Homo sapiens: one gene and its partners. The protein of the gene in region 1 interacts with the protein of each later gene in a pairwise test. Each region holds a gene or a part of one and is shown in the gene's direction. Other genes may lie near its edges.

Region 1 (5,302 bases):
TGTAGGCTATATTTTGCTTATGAGTTTTTATATTACTGTATCTGAAAATGTAGAAATTTCACTTCACAAATCAAAATAGACATTATTTATATGATTTATATTAGTGGATGACAAATTTAATTGAAATAGATCTCTGAGGTATTTGTTAAGAGAAACAGATTTATAAGTATTGGTAAATTTTTTAAGTGTCTTTTATTGTTTCCTCTGAGGTAGGTTTAATATGTGCACTTAAGTTACATTTTCATGATATTAACTGTGTCCAGTTTTAAATTTTAAAATTTGTGGGCTGGGTGCAGTGGCTCATGCCTGTAATCCCAGCACTTTGGGAGGCCGAGGCGGGTGGATTACTTGAGGTTGGGAGTTTGAGACTAGCCTGGCCTGGCCAACATGGTGAAACCCCGTCTCTACTAAAAAACAAAAATTAGCCAGCTGTGTTGGCGGGCACCTGTAATCCTAGCTACTCAGGAGGCTGAGACAGGAGAATCACCTGAGCCCGGGAGGCAGAGGTTGCAGTGAGCTGAAATCGTGCCACTGCACTCCAGCCTAGGCGACAGAGCGAGACTCCGTCTCAAAAAAAAAAAAATAAAATTTGTGTATGTACAATGAAGGATTACTTGATTTTTTTGTGTGATATATTCACTTCATTTCTAATATTATAAAACCTTATTTTTGGAACAAATAAACAGGAATGATGGGAGGAATAGTATATGAGACCTTACTGACTGGTTCTTGGGAGTGATTGTTAACATGGGTTGCAATCCACTTTTATTTTTTTATTTTTATTTATTTATTTTTTTGAGATGACATCTTGCTCTGTCACCCAGGCTGGAGTTCAGTGGCGCTACCTTGGCTCACTGCAACCTCTGCCTCCCAGGTTCAAGCAATTCTCCTGCCTGAGCCTCCCGAGTAGCTGGGATTACAGGTGCCCACCACCATGCCTGGTTAATTTTTGTATTTTTAGTAGAGAAGGGGTTTCACTGTGTTGGCCAGGCTAGTCTTGAACTCCCGACCTCAAATGATCTGCCCACGTCGGGCTTCCAAAGTGCTGGGATTACAGGCGTGAGCCACCGCACCCAGCTGCGATCCACTTTTAAATGGATTTGTGGAAAAAGCACAGATTATCATTAAACTAAGCGGCATTTAGGTCACACATCTCATTCATCTGATCAGTGATCTGACAACCTGATGGGAGAGTCACATCTCCTAGGGTTTCAGGAATCAGTGGGAGAGGCACGCTATGAAAGGGCATGTGAAGGAAGGCTGTGTTTTTGTGTCTGCAGGTGTGCACTTGTACTACGTCGGGGGAGAGGTGTATGCCGAGTGCGTGAGTGACAGCAGCATCTTTGTGCAGAGCCGGAACTGCAACTATCAACACGGCTTCCACCCAGCTACCGTCTGCAAGATCCCCAGCGGCTGCAGCCTCAAGGTCTTCAACAACCAGCTCTTCGCTCAGCTCCTGGCCCAGTCAGTTCACCACGGCTTTGAAGTCGTGTATGAACTGACCAAGATGTGTACTATCCGGATGAGTTTTGTTAAGGTAAGGAGTGCTTGCTATCACGTTATAAAATGTTCAGTGAAAAACAAAACAAAAAAGCACCCTGACTGATGTGGCAGGCAGTTGTGCGGTCAATTCTGATAGACAAAACCAATTTATTATTATTATTATTTTTTGAGACGGAGTTTCACTCTGTCACACAGGCTGGAGTGCAGTGGCATGATCTTGGCTCACTGCAACCTCTGCCTCCCGGGTTCAAGCGATTTTCCTACCTCAGCCTCCCGGGTAGCTGGGACTACAGGCACGCACCACCACGCTTGGCTGATTTCTGTATTTTTAGTAGAGACAGGGTTTCACCATATTGGCCAGAGTGGTCTTGAACTCCTGACCTTGTGATCCTCCCATCTTGGCCTCCCAAAGTGCTGGGATTACAGGCGTGAGCCACCGCGCCCAGCCCAAAACCAATTTTTTTGAATTCTATTGTTTTTAGGAGGAGTTCCTCTTTGAGTATAAACTGTCTTGTTTAGCAATTATATGAAAATTGTTACACATTACTTTTGAGGAAAAACAAGGTGGCTATTTGATTGTTTTTAATGCAGATGATAAAGTAACAACAGTAATTTTACAGGACTAGTGCAACAGAGATTTTTTCCATCCTTCCAATTGCCAAGCACTGTTATCACTCAGTGAATGTTGGTGAATTTATCTGAATTCAGTAAGATACTCTCCTTACTCTTAGAAAGCATACAGGCACATGGAGGAGATAATATTTATGAATAAGCTACAAAAATAGGCAGGGTTGGTTCTAATACAAGATAATAAACTAAGTAGTGTTATAAAGGTATAAACAATTTGGAATAGAAACGGGTGTGATTAATTCAGAGAGCAGTATATGTTCTGTTGATGAATATTTGTTGAATTTCTCATATCGAATCTTATTAAGGTTGCTATGAAGGCTGGAGAACCAAGGAAGTTTCTTAGTGGGAAGGAAAGACAACTGGGTTTGTATATGGAAGTGAAAGCCTTCAGTTTCATCACCTGCTATTTTGTCTGTTGCAAAGTACTCGCAAATGAGTCTAGTATTTCAAAATATGGGCTTATCAAAGTATCGGGGTATGTGTGACAGTTTTCTTACTGCCATGATTCCATCCAGGGAATCAGCATGGCTTGTTCCAGGCATTTTTTTCAAAGTAAATTTTATTAGCACTTTAAAATTACCATGACAAATAATTTTTCTATACTCAAATTATGTTTTTATTATCACTTTAGTAATTATTTAAAAAGTAAGAACAATATAGTTTCCAATTTTAAAAAACAGCTGCTTGAAATTATTTCTCTTTCATGGTGACAAAGCAGTTTCATTCAAATTTAGTGTTTTGAAAGCATATATTATAAAGTTATATTAACAAATAACTTCGAAATCTTTTCAAATGTTCTGTTGCTTTAGAAACGGCAGAGGGCATCATTTGAATCATACAGTTTTTTTTTTTTCCGGGTCTGTGTTTTTAAAATTAGGATGAAATGCCAATATCTCATAGGTAATTATTTCACTCTGATTAAATATAAGCTTATATAGAAATCTGATTTTCCTAATAACTAGATACATTTCTCAGATAGGCAGCATTTACATTCATAAAGCTACACAATTGACACAGAAGACAAACTGTTCCTAATACTGCAGGAACTTTTAAAATAAATACATAGTAAATATAACTATAGATCATTTTTTTTTAACATTTGAGATGAGCAGCTGTAGCTACCACTGGGCTGATGGATCAGATCTCTTTAAGGTTTCTTTCAGCTCTGATTTTTACTGATTCTAGGACTTAGTCAGTCAACAAATGTTTATTGAGCACCTGCCATGTGCAGGCCAGGCACGTGGGACATGCCAATGTTTACTCACAGATCTCTGACCTCAGGGAACCAATATTCTAGGAAGGAGAGATGGATAATAAACAACAGCCAAAACACAGAAGAAGGATGGAAAGAGAAAGTCTGGGGGCAGGGTGAAGGGAATTGGAGCACGGGGGCAGTGGAGTCATCTGCACATGAGGGTGGGCCTCATTGAAAAGGTGACAGGTCAGCAGAGACTGGAAGGAGACATGGAGCTAGGCCCAGGGACCCCTGGAGGAAGAGCAGAAGAAGAGGGAAGAGCAAGGCAACAGCATACACCTGGAAACTCTGAAGAGCAGGCAGGCCAGTGTGGCTGGGGCCTAATGAGCAGGGGAAGTGAGATGAGAGCAGCCGCAGGGAACCATAGCAAGGCCTCCTGAACCTCTGCTACGAGTTCAGCGGTGACTGTAAGGAGGTGGCGAGCTTTTGCAGGGATCAGAGCAGAGCATTTTCATGATCTAACTTCTATTCTTAAAGGATCGCCCTGCCTGCTGTGTGGAGGATAGATATTATACAGGCAAGGTTGCAAGTAGGGAAACCACTTAGGAGGCTATAGTAATAGTCAGGTGAGAGTCGCCCCCACCTGGAGGGATCCAGTACAGCTGTGAGAAGTGGAAGGATTCTGAATTGTGAAGGCGGATCAGGCGTGGGAGAAAAAGAGGAAGATGAAGTTAGTTGCCTTCAATCAAGATGGAGAAGACGCAGGTGTAATTGAGATGTCCGTTGCATTCAAGTGGAGTTGCTGAGTAGCCAGTTCGATATAAGAGTCTGGATTCGGGGAGAGAGGTTTGGGCTTGAAATACAAATTTGGGAATTGTCTGCAAAGGGACCGTATTTAACTCCCTAAGTGTGGATGAGAACACCAAAGGTTTGAGTTTAAACTGAGAAGAGCCGGGCGTGGTGGCTCATGCCTGTAATCCCAGCACTTTGGGAGGCTAAGGTGGGTGGATTGCTTGAGGTCAGGAGTTCAAGACTAGCCTGGCCAACATGGCAAAACCCCATCTCTACTAAAAATACAAAAATTAGCCAGGCGTGGTGGCGCGTGCCTGTAATCTCAGCACTTGGGAGGCTTAGGCAGGAGAATCGCTTGAACCTCGGAGGCAGAGGTTGCAGTGAGCTGAGATCGCACCATTGCACTCCAGCCTGGGTGACAGAGCCAGACTCCATCTCAAAAAAATTAAAATAAATAAATAAGAAAGGGGGCTCTAGGACTGAGCCCTGGGACACTTCAACATTTAAAGATGGGACAGAAGGGACAGAATCAGCAAAGAAAACTGAGAAAGACCAACCAGTGAGGTAGTAATAAGACCAAGAAGTGTGGTGCTTTGGAAGCCGAGAAAAGACAGTGCATTGATGAGAGGATGTGATGAACTAAATCAAATGCTGCCCACATAACACAAAGGCTGAGAGCTGATCATTCATTTTAACAATATGAAGGCCTTTTTTGATCTTGACAAGAAAAGTTTTGTTGGCGGCTGGGGTGAGATGATGATCAGAATGGATTTAAGAGAGAATGGAAGGAGACAAATTGAGATGGCTAGTATGGATGACTCTTCTGAGGGTTTTTGCCAGAAATGGGATAAAAACATAGGGCAGTAGCTGGTGGGGGGTGGAGAAGTATCTTGAAGGTGGAAGACATTTCAGTGTGTTCATATGTTGACGGGAATGATATAGTAGACGCAAAAGATTGCAGGAGAGAAGGGGAAGATTTGCTGGAATGATGTCTCTGGGAAGGCAGGTCTGAGAGTGCATTAATGGGTGGACCAGCTTATTTGGAAACACAAATAATTAATCTGTGGTAAGAGGTAGAAAGGCCAAGTATGTGGATGCAGGTCCTGTGGAAACTTATTTCTGATGTATTCATTTTTCTCATTAAAATACAAAATAAATATCAGTTGCAGGTATGGACAGGGA
Region 2 (3,449 bases), on another chromosome or scaffold:
ATCTCCCATTTCTTTGTGAAGGCCAAGATCCTCCCTGCCCCCCCTCCCCCCTTTTCCTGCTCCACATAAACATCTTCCTCTTTCTGAATATCCTCCTACCCAGCCCTCCCCCAGCAACTTTAAGGGACTTCACTCCTGGGAGACCCCCTAGGGAAAGCCGTGGCCACTATGGAGGGCGAGGGTGACTTACAGATCCCATTCCCTCCACTTCCCAGGAGGTGGAAAAGTCGGGTCTGCTCAACATGACCAAGATTGCCCAAGGGGGGCGCAAGCTCAGGTGAGAACCCAGAATACAGCTAGGGCCTGGGCTGTCAACTCCATAGGGTAGAGCAGGGTGTTGGAAGAGCACCCTCCTCGTGTCATTCTAGAATGACCTGTTCGCTACCACTACCTCCCCTCTCTGTCCCCGCAGGAAGAACTGGGGCCCGTCTTGGGTGGTGTTAACGGGTAACAGCCTGGTGTTCTACCGAGAGCCACCGCCGACAGCGCCCTCCTCAGGCTGGGTGAGTGTGAGCGAGAGGCGCAGGATGGGTGCGGGCGCTGCCTACCGCCTCACGCCAATGTGGGGGCGGCAGCGGGGAGGGCGGTGCAGAGGAAAGTAAAGAAGTGAGGAAGCCTCCCACCTCCTCACAGCCCACCGGGGAGAGGGAAGCAGTGAAGGAAACAACACCGTGGCCTCAGTTTCCTCCCTCATTGTCAGGGACCAGCGGGTAGCCGGCCCGAAAGTAGCGTGGACCTGCGCGGGGCGGCCCTGGCGCACGGCCGCCACCTGTCCAGCCGCCGCAACGTCCTGCACGTGAGCGCCCTCCCGCGCGTCCCCAAGGCCCCACCCGACCCGAGGGCGCCCCCAATCTCCCGCGCAGGCCTCCCGCTAGGTCTCCCTGCTTATTATACTCCTTCCCGTTGACCCGAGCGTTTCCTTGCCTGGCCCTCAGATCCGCACGATCCCTGGCCACGAGTTCCTGCTGCAGTCGGACCACGAGACAGAGCTGCGAGCCTGGCACCGCGCGCTGCGGACTGTCATCGAGCGGCTGGTTAGATGGGTGGAGGCCCGGAGGGAGGCTCCGACCGGCCGGGACCAAGGGAGTGGGGTAGGAACGATAGGAGTCAGGAGCAGTTGGGGGCAGGGTGGGCTCAGTGGAGAGCCCTTGCCTGGGCCGGGATGTGGGACCCCGGCAGTGGGTCAGAGTCCAGCTAGGGATACAGATTTCTCTCCTCTCTCACCTTCGACACGGCCCGCCCCGGGTCTAGGATCGGGAGAACCCCCTGGAGCTGCGTCTGTCGGGCTCTGGACCCGCGGAGCTGAGCGCCGGGGAGGACGAAGAAGAGGAGTCGGAGCTGGTGTCCAAGCCGCTGCTGCGCCTCAGCAGCCGCCGGAGCTCCAGTGAGGCGCGGGCTGGGGAGGGAGAGTCCGGGAGCGCAGCGAGGCTCCCGGGCGCTCACGCCCCGCTCTACCTGCCTCCTGCAGTTCGGGGGCCCGAAGGCACCGAGCAGAACCGCGTGCGCAACAAACTAAAGCGGCTCATCGCGAAGAGACCGCCCTTACAAAGCCTGCAGGAGCGGGGTCTGCTCCGAGGTGAGGGGGCTGGGCCAGGTTCATGGATAAGAAAACTCCAGCGAGGCTCAGAGTAGAGCTTCCCAGAACTAGACCACAACCTTCTGTGACTGCTGCTTTCCCACTACCCCAGATTGTTTAGGGGAGAAGCTGGGGTGACCTGTACCCCTTTGCCAGATTGTTTGAAGCAGGGGAAGGGAGGTGGAGTGTATTTCCTTGCCCAGGCCTGGCACAGGCAGCCAGGAGGACCAGCCTCACTTAAGGATAAAGACCTATGCTGAGAAGAGCTCCTGTGAGTGACGCTGGCACTGGCTTCCCGCCTCACTCTACTTCCCCAGACCAGGTGTTCGGCTGCCAGTTGGAATCACTCTGCCAGCGGGAAGGAGACACGGTGCCCAGCTTTTTGCGGCTCTGCATTGCTGCTGTGGATAAAAGAGGTCATTTTCTCAGAGACCCCAGAATCCTCTTCCAACAGGCTAAGGCCTAGAATTTTCTGCCTCCCCCATTCTACCTAGTCTTCCTACTGCCCTTTTTCTCTCCACCCTTATATCCCTCACCACACACACTTTCAAGCAGCAGTCCTTATCTACTCCTTCCTCATCTCCCAGGTCTAGATGTGGATGGCATTTATCGGGTGAGCGGGAACTTGGCAGTGGTCCAGAAGCTTCGCTTTCTGGTGGACAGAGGTGAGAAGGCTTGTGGGCCAGTGGTTGTACTAAGAATGTCTTGCCTGAGAACCATGGGCGGTCCTACATGAGGAAGCTGGCAGAATAGAGAGGCCGTCAGGCTGGAAGTGTATGTCTTAGCTCCTGATCTCTCCTCATTCATGTTGCAGAGCGTGCGGTCACCTCCGATGGGAGGTATGTGTTCCCAGAACAGCCAGGACAAGGTACTTACATGGAAGACCCTTCAGATCCCTAAAACTTCCACATATCCTCTTTGCTTCCCGTGGAAACCCCCATGTACTATTCCTGGGAGGGTTGTCCTCATCCCCACCTTAGCTACCTTGCCCCACTGCAGACCCTCTAGGCATTCCTATAGTCTGCTTTGACTGGATTTCTCCAGAACTTCTAATCTCTCAGTCTCTAAATCTTTCTGGCCCTTCATGAGCCCCTATACCTCCTTCTCCCTCCAGAAGGTCGGTTAGATTTGGACAGTACTGAGTGGGATGACATTCATGTGGTCACCGGAGCCCTGAAGCTTTTTCTCCGGGAGCTGCCCCAGCCTCTGGTGCCACCACTGCTGCTGCCCCATTTCCGTGCTGCCCTTGGTAAGGGTTGGAGCTTTGGAAAGAACCCTTGATGTGGGGGACACGGGTGGTAAATAATAGAATAGAGGTTCCCTTATACTCTTCTTTCCCATTCTGACTTTAGAGATGGAAAATAATGTTCAACTCAGGTGCCTACTCCAGTTGCTTTTTTGTGAATGTTTAGAGGGCTGAATTGAAAAGAATTATGAGGCTATAGTTGGGCTATGTGAAAAAGAAAGCTGTGCTAGATTAATGATGTCTTCCATGCCTGTGGGAAAGAGCAGTGCATTTACCCATCCTGTCCTAGCACCTTCCCTAACCTTACTACCATGCCTTTCCCATCACTCTCTCTAGCACTCTCCGAATCAGAGCAGTGCCTCTCTCAGATACAAGAATTAATAGGCTCAATGCCAAAGCCCAACCATGACACTCTACGGTACCTCCTGGAGCATTTATGCAGGTCAGGAAGACAGAACCTCTTTGTTCATGCTGGGGAAAGGTGGAGTGGGGAATGCCACAGGGACTCTGTGCAGGTGGAGTGAAGGTAGGGAAGCACCTAAGTTTAATGGGCAGGTGAGGAAGCAGGCAACCTCTGTGCAGGAGCATATTACCAGAGTCAAAACCTTTATTTTTTTATTTTATTTA
Region 3 (4,370 bases), on another chromosome or scaffold:
TGGATCTCCACCACCTAAAGAATGAGTCCAAACCCTACCATCTTCTTCACTCCCCAAATCACACCTCAATTCTAGGTGGTCCCATTTGTTCCTGAGCTTGTCTCGAGCTTGTGCAAACTGCTGTGTCCTCTGCTTCTCTACCTGGGCCCCCTTCACGCACTCCCCTTTCTTAGGCAGAACCTACTAGGTTACTTGGCAGCCGGAGGAAAGAGTGGTGCTCCTTCTTTGAGAGTTGGTGTGGGCAGAGGTTGTTATTCCAGGAAGTTTCTCTAGGGGTCTCCTGGATGCAGTCCAGCAGCTTTATTGAACTGGCCTCACCCCCATCCCTTTCCAGCCTCAGCTAAGCTCTGCCCCAGGAGTTGGGTTTCTGGGCCTTCCAAGGAGGTTCTTCTGCTTCAAACTGTTGAGCCCTTATTTAAGGCTCATTGATTTCCGGATCACAAAGTTACCAAAGTGGAACACAAAAATATCTGTTTTCCTGGGAAATAATTTTTTTTTTTTTTTTTTGCAATTGATCTTCCCACCTCACAGTGTCAGGATGTGAAAGCATTGAGTTGAGCGTCTGTGGCTCATTCTGTTCAAGGCATCGTACATAACAGTCATTGCAGAGAACGTCGCAGGCTGATGGGCAACTGAGAGGGTTACGGAAGAAGGAAGTGGCACGAAGTGGACTCTTGGCCCCTGGAGTAGTGCTTGAGTCAGAGTTACTGAGTTGTGAATGAGACCATACATGTGTCTCTGGGCCAGGACCTGGACCACTTTTGATAAATTGACACTTAGAACTTAGGGGCCTTCAGATGTCTTCCCAGTTACCACAGCCACTGGTACTGAGTTTTCCACAGAAGTGACACATGGACACGTGAGCTTGTGCCACCATTGCCTGTGTGAGGGAAAAACCCTTTGCCAGAGGTCGGAGGGCACCTCGAAGACATGGTGCCTGGCGGGTGAATCCCACACCGCCACTCACTGCTGGTGACCGAGGGCAAGTCACTGTGTTGTGAAGGATGAGAAATAACACACATGTCAAGGATCTAGCAAAGTGCCTGTCATGGAAAGACACTTGATACAGTCACCAGAGGTTGTTAGACATCCCCTCGGACTCCTGGAGTGTTTGGTAGACACAGACAGGGCTGCCCTGAGGAGTCTGATGGCCCCCTCGTCTCAGCTGTACACTCCCCATGGACCAGGCTTTCACTGGCCTCCATGTGAGCCTACACAGGGTCCCTTAGAGTGTTGGTAGTGGACACAGTGGCCCATCCCACAGGTCCCAACTACTGTTATTAGGGACCATTTTGACCTGGGCTCTGAGTTCTCCTTCACATTAGCTCTGTGGGGTGGAAGTTAACTCACAATGTTCTGGGAAGCAACAGGCAAAGACCCTAATCAGGCAGGAAGTCTAAGGACCTTGGGTGTAGAATTCGTCTCTCCTCTGACCATCAAGGGCACCTCAAGAGCCAGGCTGCCAGCTCCCTACTTTCGCAGAAAGCCTCTTTAGGTGAAAGGGATGGTCCCCCTGAGTGGCAGAGCACTGGCTTCCCAACAGGCCGACATTAGCATCTCCTCCTACCCTTCTGTCCTCCTTGGCAGGTCTTCCAGAATTGAGCCACTGACAGAACGAGGGTACTGCTAGTGTCATTGGTGGGAATAAGGAAGCTGGGAGCAAAGAGGACTCACTTGAAGGAGAAGGTAGAATCCAGGGGTTCCACTCTGGAACCCCTGAGTTTGAGTTGGCAGCTGGGTGTCTGTTTGAGGCCTTCCAGGTTACAGAAGAGAGGTCAGAGCCAGTGGTCATAATTAGTCATTCACCCCGAGGAGAGTGCACCAAGATGGAGAGGTTGGAACAAGCAGAGCTGAGAACAGAGCTCCTCAGCCCAGGGCGCGTCCACAGGGAGAGAAGGGTGGCAGCAGGGCCATCCACAGCAGCTGGAGGAGCCCTCAGCACAGGGCCAGCCCAGGGTGGGAGAGCTCTCCAGTGCCAGAGAGAGCACAGTTTGAGTGCCCTTGGGAGCAAACCAGTCCAGTCTCATTATTGAATGAGGAAATTTAGACCCTAAAAAATGAAGTGAACTTGCCCAAAGTCACACTGCTCGTTTGTGATATATGGACCTAAGATTCAAACCCTGCATGTTACTACTCCTGCAACACAGCACTGTCTCTCATGTATCTGAAGCAGTGGATTCAGGAGCCTCTCTTCCCTCTGCTCCCCACAAACCTTAGCTGATGTGTGTCCTTCCTTTGCAGCTGGCTCTCCTCACGGAACTCTCCCAGAATCGCAGCAGCGAGAGCTATAGGCCATTCAGTGGCTCGCAGAGTGCTCCTGCTTTCAACAGCATCTTCCAGAATGAGAACTTCCAGCTGCAGCTCATTCCTCCACCTGTGACTGAGGATTGATGACTCCATGGAGCCTGGCCCAGGAGAACCAGAGATGATCCCGAGGCAGCTGGGGAGAGGCCCCGCCTCTGGTGGGCTTGGCCTCCACCACCTCCCACGCTTCTGAGAAGAGGTTCCAAATTGGGCTTCTGTGCCCAGAGCGTCCACAGCACCATTCCCAGTGTAGACTCCCAGTCTTCTCCACATTGCTGTCATGGCGTCAGTTCACCAGACTCATTGATTTTGTTTTGCTTGTTAAGCAAAGGAATGTCACATACCTCTGTCCAGCTTTTTAGGAAATACATTTCGCCTATTGCGACTTTTTCCATTTACCCTGAAGCCTAGAAAGTAGGTGGAACTCACACAAATGGCATTCCAGAGTCTGCCATACTCCGTCTCCTCCAGCTGCTGGATAATACAGAGGAACTTCAACTTCTACAGGGAACAGTGGTTGGCCAGGCTGCAGTATAACTGAAGCATGCCTTGGAGAGAGCAGACACTGTGGGGGCCAGGGCCATCTCCCTTTAATGTGTTCATGTTAAAACCTATTTGAGTGTAAGACTTGCCCTTTCTAACAATAAATGCTCCGTGTTTAAGTTCTGCAGGTCTCCTGGCTGGCTGGCTCTCAGTCTGTCAAGTCATGGAGGACATTTCGAGCCCTGTTGTCACAATTTTATTAGCTCAAAGTCAGGAATCCTGCCTGTGACAACCCTCCTTAATTCAGATAAGCAGCTCCATTGTCAGCTGTATTCAGAGCAGCCCAGCCACCCATATGCTCCCGTGACAGGCGCTGGGCTGCCAAAGAGAATAGTACTCAGTTTTTGGCCATGGGACTTCGTATATCATTGAACCAACTGCCACAGGAGGTCGCCACACCCAGACACCTAGGTTTCCACCTTACATACTCAGATGATCCTTTTCTCAGTGCAATGGAATCGTCAGGCTCTCATGGACTGATACTAACCAAACCCACAGGAAATAGATACATAAACTAGGTAGAAATTTTTTTTTTTTTGAGACAGAGTTTCACTCTTGCTGCTCAGGCTGGAGTGCAGTGGTGCTGTCTTGGCTCACTGCAAGCTCCGTCTCCCAGGTTCAAGTGATTCTCTTGCCTCAGCTTCCCGAGTAGCTGGGATTACCGGCACCCACCACCACGCCCGGCTAATTTTTTAATTTTTGGTAGAGATGGGGTTTCACCATGTTGGCCAGGCTGGTCTCGAATTCCTGATCTCAGGTGATCCGCCTGCCTTGGCCTCCTAAAGTGCTGGGATTACAGGCATGAGCCACCACACCTGGCCAATAGAAATTTTTAACTCTTAAATAGAAAATAGATCTTGTTTCTGCCATGTACTACGTATAATCAACAAATCAGTTAACCTCTCTAAGCCTCTGTTTCTTTATAAACAGAACTGTTATGAAGAGGAAATAATACATGTAAACATTTGCTATGTGCCATTGAGGCACATGGCAAATACCCCAGAAATGCTAGCTTAGCTTTTATTATATAACTTCTCCCAAGACCTGGGCTACAAGGGTACTGCTTCCTGATGAAGGTGTCAGGAGATAAAATTGAGGGAAGTGGTTGAACCATTAAGTCATCATTGCTTGGATGCCTGCCGCAGCTATATGACAGTCTCAACCCCAGCTGACAGATGAGAAAGCTGAGGCTCAGAGGTGATAAGTAATTTCACCAAGGTAACCTACCAAAGAGGTAGCAGAGCAGGTGGAATTCAGAGTTGTGATTCCAGAGCCAGTGATGCTACCTGCCCCAAGTTATGTATCAAAAGGTTTCTCATTGAGCCTAAAATAAGGCCAAAGGAACTTGATGTTCTCAAAGCAAAACTCAATTATTCCTTTTCTTCTTTTATAGTGTAAAGAACTAAGGCAAAGGAGTATTCAATATAAAAAAGCAAATTGTGACATCAAAAACATGAAATGTATGTGGGAAGGGTGAAGTAAAAGCAGAACTTTATGCAATCAAAATAAAGTTGTAATAAGTT
Region 4 (4,400 bases), on another chromosome or scaffold:
GCCCGTGGGAAGCAGCGGCATCTGCTCTTTCCACGCTCGTTCCCAGCGGCTCCCTCTGAAACCCAACCCGCCCGGCCCAGCCCCGCCGCCGCCGGCCAGTGCCCTCGCCCGCCCCGCCCCCGGGGATCGGGTTGCAGGAGCCGGAGCCACCGCGCCGCGGTACGCGGTTCCCCGACGGCCGCCGCGAGGGGCGAGGAGCGAGGAGCGAGGGGCGAAGGGCGAGGCCGAGCAGGTCCGGACCAAGAGCCCAAAGTGGGCCCAGAGTGCATGAGAGGACTTGACCCGGGTTGAAATGAGCCCCCAGGAAGAAGGGGAGAGCAAGCTGCTCCTTCTAGGCCCAGCCTGTGGCTCCTCCTGGCCCGAGGTCGGCCCAGGCCGGGGAGACTGTCCCCCAGCCCTGAAAAATCAGCTTTTCTTTTCCTTTCCAGCCAGATGGCCAGGCCGCTGTCCACCCCCAGCTCTTCGCAGATGCAAGCCAGGAAGAAACACAGAGGGGTGAGTGTCCGTCTCAGCCTCTGAGTTGACCAACAAAGGGTTGCCATGAATCCCCTGCAGTCTGGCGGCGGGGAGAACCCTAGGCAGAAATTTCACCATGAAGCTAACTGCTTGGGTTCAAATCCCGGCTCTGTCACTAGCTATCAGGGTGATTCCAGGCAAGCCTGTTAACCTCTCTGAGCCTGATTTGCTCCTTTGTGTAACTGGAATAATGAGAGGGCCCACCTCAAAGGGCTGCTTTACAGATTAAGTGCATTAATGTAATGCTCTAAACAATAGCAGACACACAATAGGCCATTATGATTGTTGTTCCTATCTTCTGTCTCCTCTCTGAGTCCAGAACTTTCATCCCCCTCAGTGTGCCGGGGTGGGGGAGGGGACAGAAGAAGGATCCCCACTTGCCGCTGTCATCTGTCCATCATGTTCAGCCCCACTTTCCTCCCAGGATGCAGCTGTGTTTCTGCACTGGGAGTCCAGACACCTGGGGTCTGGCAGAGAGCAGCCTGACACTCACTGACTGTAAGCCCTTAGGCAAACCACTTCCTTCCAGCCCTCATTTTCCTTATCTGTAAAATGGGGTCATATCTGTCCTGCTCCCGGTGTTCTGCTACCAGTATTGGAGGGAAGAATGAGAGTGTGTGGGTGGAAGGGCCCTGCAGCTAGAGAGAGCAACACGTGGGACTCCCCAAACCATCTCATGACCTCACAGATGACGGGGTCACCCTCCTGGCCCAGCACGGGCCTCCAGGGCCTGCTCCAGCACCGTGGCTGGTGTCCTCATTGTGATTGGCTGTGCCCTGCTGTACCAGTGGTTAAACATCTTGAATATCACCCCTATAGACCGAGACAAGAGATCTGAGTTGTACTCCCAGCTCTGCGCTTTCTTGCTGTGTGACCTTAAGCAAATCACTGTCCTTCTCTGGGCCTTGGTTTTCTCCACCATAAAGTAAGACTAGATTGATCTCCCTCACAAAAATACTGTGTGGGTAAATATGAGTTGATGACCATCAAGGCACTTTGGAAACTGTGATGACACACCTGTGAGTAACTTCTTGTCATGATTGTTTAGATCATAGAGAAACGGCGTCGAGACCGCATCAACAGTAGCCTTTCTGAATTGCGACGCTTGGTCCCCACTGCCTTTGAGAAACAGGTATGTGACATTGCTGATTGTGCTAGAGGAAATACTGTGTGGGTGGCAGATAAGGTTCGTTTCTCATGGCATCTCTTGTTGATTGGTAGCAGCTGCCTGAGATGCTGTGATCATTTACCAATATCTGTCACTGGCCAGGGTAAAAGGAATGGAAATTTATACTTAGGTGTCTCAGGTGTCTTTATGTCTATCATCCCATTGAATTGACTCCTCAAAATGATCCCAAAGGTTAGGGATTATTATGCCCATGGCACAGGTAAAGAAACTGAAGCACAGAGAGGTGAAGTAACTTACACCAGATCACGCAGCTAGTAAATAGCAGGGCACAGGACTGTGTGATTCTCAAGCCCTCATCCCTCTGCACTACAGACATTTCTAGAGTGACTTGAAAGTGGAAAAGGCTGCTCAGGGAGTGAGCACTCTACCATTGAGCATGTTAGGTGGGGGAACTACAGCGGGGAATCAGACAGTGGACTCAGCCTCAGAAATTCTCACCCTATGCACCAAGGCATAGGTCACGGGTCCTCTGCCTTCCTTTATGCTGGTGAGAACAAGTCAGTCATCCCACAGATGTTCACTAAAACCATCACAGGACCAGCCATGAACTAGACCTAGTATCTGCCCTCAAGGGACTCCCATGGAGCCTCTGATCTTCAGGCTTCACCTGGAAAGCTTAGGAAGCATTTCCCAAGAGAGAAAAGAGGAAGAACAAGTGGTCTGGGGATAAGATGATGAGCTAGATCTTGGGCACATTGAGTCTGAAGTTGGATTCCCTGAAGAGCTGGTTTAAGAGGCATTCTGAGGATGGTGGCTAAAGCCATGGAGGTGACAAGCCTCTCTGCAGGGAGCAGCAGAATGCGAAGTGACACAGAAGGGACAGTACTGTGTTAAGAGACGGCAGATCAAGAGGCATGGTGAAAGGAGAGCCCAGAAACAGTGGTGTCGTGCAAGTCAAGGGAGGAGTGGTTTCAGGAAAGATGATCGGCAGCTGTACAGTGGACAGATGGTCTGAGAGGAGAACTGAAAAGAATGTTCTAGATTTGGAGAACTTGGCCAAAGCAGAAGCCCATTTGCAGGCAGCAGTGGAGTGGGAGGAAGGTGAGAAAATCGAGACAGTGAGTGCTGATGACACCGCACAGCTACATGGTCAGCTGCAGGCTCCACCCTTCTGTCTTCTGTACCCGCAGGGCTCTTCCAAGCTGGAGAAAGCCGAGGTCTTGCAGATGACGGTGGATCACTTGAAAATGCTCCATGCCACTGGTGGGACAGGTACCCATGCTCTTCTCTTTCAGGCGTCATTCATACAACAAATATTTTGAGGCTGGGCCCTGGGGATATGCTGGTGAGCAAAGTCCACACGCTGCCCACTCTGAGGAGCTCAGTCAATGGAGGGAACATTTGCAAAGCTTCTCTCTCTCCTTTCAGCATCTCCCTCTCCACTTTCAGTGTCTCCATTTGTCGCAACCTTTTCCTCAGTTCAGCTCCCTCCAGTCTTAGACCTGGGAGGCGCTTTCTTCTGTAACAGACTGTTCCTATGGGTCCCACTCTTGTCCAACCCAGGACCTCATTAAGAATTCACCTGAATGAGCTAATTCTCACTGGGATCCCAATCTGACCCCCCTTAACCCAGGGAGGAGCCTGGTATCCTACCCACTGGTCTAGCCTTCTGGGCTACTGTGGGGTCCTTGGCAGAACTGGGGTGACATATCATGCTCACCACAGGTCTCAGGATTGTAGCAGGACACAAATTAACTCATTTTGTTATTTTAAGCCCATCAGTTACAATAAAGTAAGGGAACAGTGGCTTTAAAGACACTTCCAGACAAATAGAAATTCTGTCTACTCAAAGTTTCTCTGTGTATTTGGTGATTTCAAAATTGGGAAACCTTGAAAGCTCCACAGGCCTTGGCCACAAAGACCTAAGTTCCAGAGACCTAACTTACTGCTACAGAAGAGGACAGTAGCATTTTAAGTGGCCCATTCTGGTGCTTCTGAAGCCTCAGTGTATACCATTGTCACCTTGGGGCAGGCAGAATCAGGAGTCATCCCCCAGAGATTCTGAGGCAGTAGGTCTAGATTGAAGTTTAGGAGTTTGCAAGTTTAACAAGCCACCCAATTATCCTGGTGCAGGTGGTCCATTTGGGAACTTCTGCCAAAAAAAATGCATTGCTAAGAGTGGAGACTTCCATCTCTAATGAACCAATGGGGGAGATTCAAATTACATTTATGGTTATCCAGTGAAAAGAAAAGTAGTGACTAATATGTGGATATCATTTGACAGTTTTAAAATGCTTTCACTTGTGTTGTTTCATTTGATTCTCACAAGAACCTGCAAGATGGGGGTTAGTGTTACCACCATTTTCTGACTGTGAACTAATGGGAAGACAGAACTGTGGTTCACGGTATAGGCTTTAGATTTGAATCGGGCTCTACTGGTTACTAGCCGTATGACCTTAGACAAATGATTTAACCTCTCCCCTCCTCAGTTTCCTCATCTCTAAAATGGGAATAATTAGAGGGTTTTATGAGGATTAAATTAGATAACTTGATGAAATGCTTAGTAAGAATTCAGCAAATGTTAGAAAAAAACAGCGGGCCGGGCGCGGTGGCTCACGCCTGTAGTCCCAGCACTTTAGGAGGCCGAAACAGGCGGATCACAAGGTCAGGAGATCGAGACCATCCTGGCTAACACGGTGAAACCCCATCTCTACTAAAAATACAAAAAAAGAAATCAGCCGGGTGTGGTGGTGGG

Evidence for each region. The genes of interacting proteins can lie anywhere in the genome.
Region 2: the proteins of SMAD9 (region 1) and ARHGAP9 interact in a two-hybrid assay, tested with the Homo sapiens proteins (one large-scale study listed by BioGRID and IntAct).
Region 3: the proteins of SMAD9 (region 1) and VPS8 interact in a two-hybrid assay, tested with the Homo sapiens proteins (one large-scale study listed by BioGRID and IntAct).
Region 4: the proteins of SMAD9 (region 1) and HEYL interact in a two-hybrid assay, tested with the Homo sapiens proteins (one large-scale study listed by BioGRID and IntAct).

What each region holds. Positions count from the first base shown.
Region 1 is NC_000013.11:36,849,654-36,854,955, reverse strand, and holds part of SMAD9 (mothers against decapentaplegic homolog 9), read left to right. Parts: intron 1-1,280; coding exon 1,281-1,537; intron 1,538-2,438; coding exon of another isoform or gene 2,439-2,618; exon of another isoform or gene 2,619-5,302. UniProt on the Homo sapiens protein: Transcriptional modulator activated by BMP (bone morphogenetic proteins) type 1 receptor kinase. SMAD9 is a receptor-regulated SMAD (R-SMAD).
Region 2 is NC_000012.12:57,473,418-57,476,866, reverse strand, and holds part of ARHGAP9 (rho GTPase-activating protein 9), read left to right. Parts: exon of another isoform or gene 1-215; coding exon 216-277; intron 278-412; coding exon 413-503; intron 504-700; coding exon 701-796; intron 797-935; coding exon 936-1,034; coding exon of another isoform or gene 1,035-1,091; intron 1,092-1,251; coding exon 1,252-1,384; intron 1,385-1,468; coding exon 1,469-1,576; intron 1,577-1,893; coding exon 1,894-1,992; intron 1,993-2,163; coding exon 2,164-2,241; intron 2,242-2,390; coding exon 2,391-2,444; intron 2,445-2,690; coding exon 2,691-2,825; intron 2,826-3,158; coding exon 3,159-3,264; intron 3,265-3,449. UniProt on the Homo sapiens protein: GTPase activator for the Rho-type GTPases by converting them to an inactive GDP-bound state. Has a substantial GAP activity toward CDC42 and RAC1 and less toward RHOA. Has a role in regulating adhesion of hematopoietic cells to the extracellular matrix.
Region 3 is NC_000003.12:185,049,635-185,054,004, forward strand, and holds the end of VPS8 (vacuolar protein sorting-associated protein 8 homolog), read left to right. Parts: intron 1-2,241; coding exon 2,242-2,391; 3' UTR 2,392-2,970; downstream 2,971-4,370. UniProt on the Homo sapiens protein: Plays a role in vesicle-mediated protein trafficking of the endocytic membrane transport pathway.
Region 4 is NC_000001.11:39,628,744-39,633,143, reverse strand, and holds part of HEYL (hairy/enhancer-of-split related with YRPW motif-like protein), read left to right. Parts: intron 1-128; exon of another isoform or gene 129-232; intron 233-428; coding exon 429-495; intron 496-1,564; coding exon 1,565-1,648; intron 1,649-2,835; coding exon 2,836-2,917; intron 2,918-4,400. UniProt on the Homo sapiens protein: Downstream effector of Notch signaling which may be required for cardiovascular development. Transcriptional repressor which binds preferentially to the canonical E box sequence 5'-CACGTG-3'.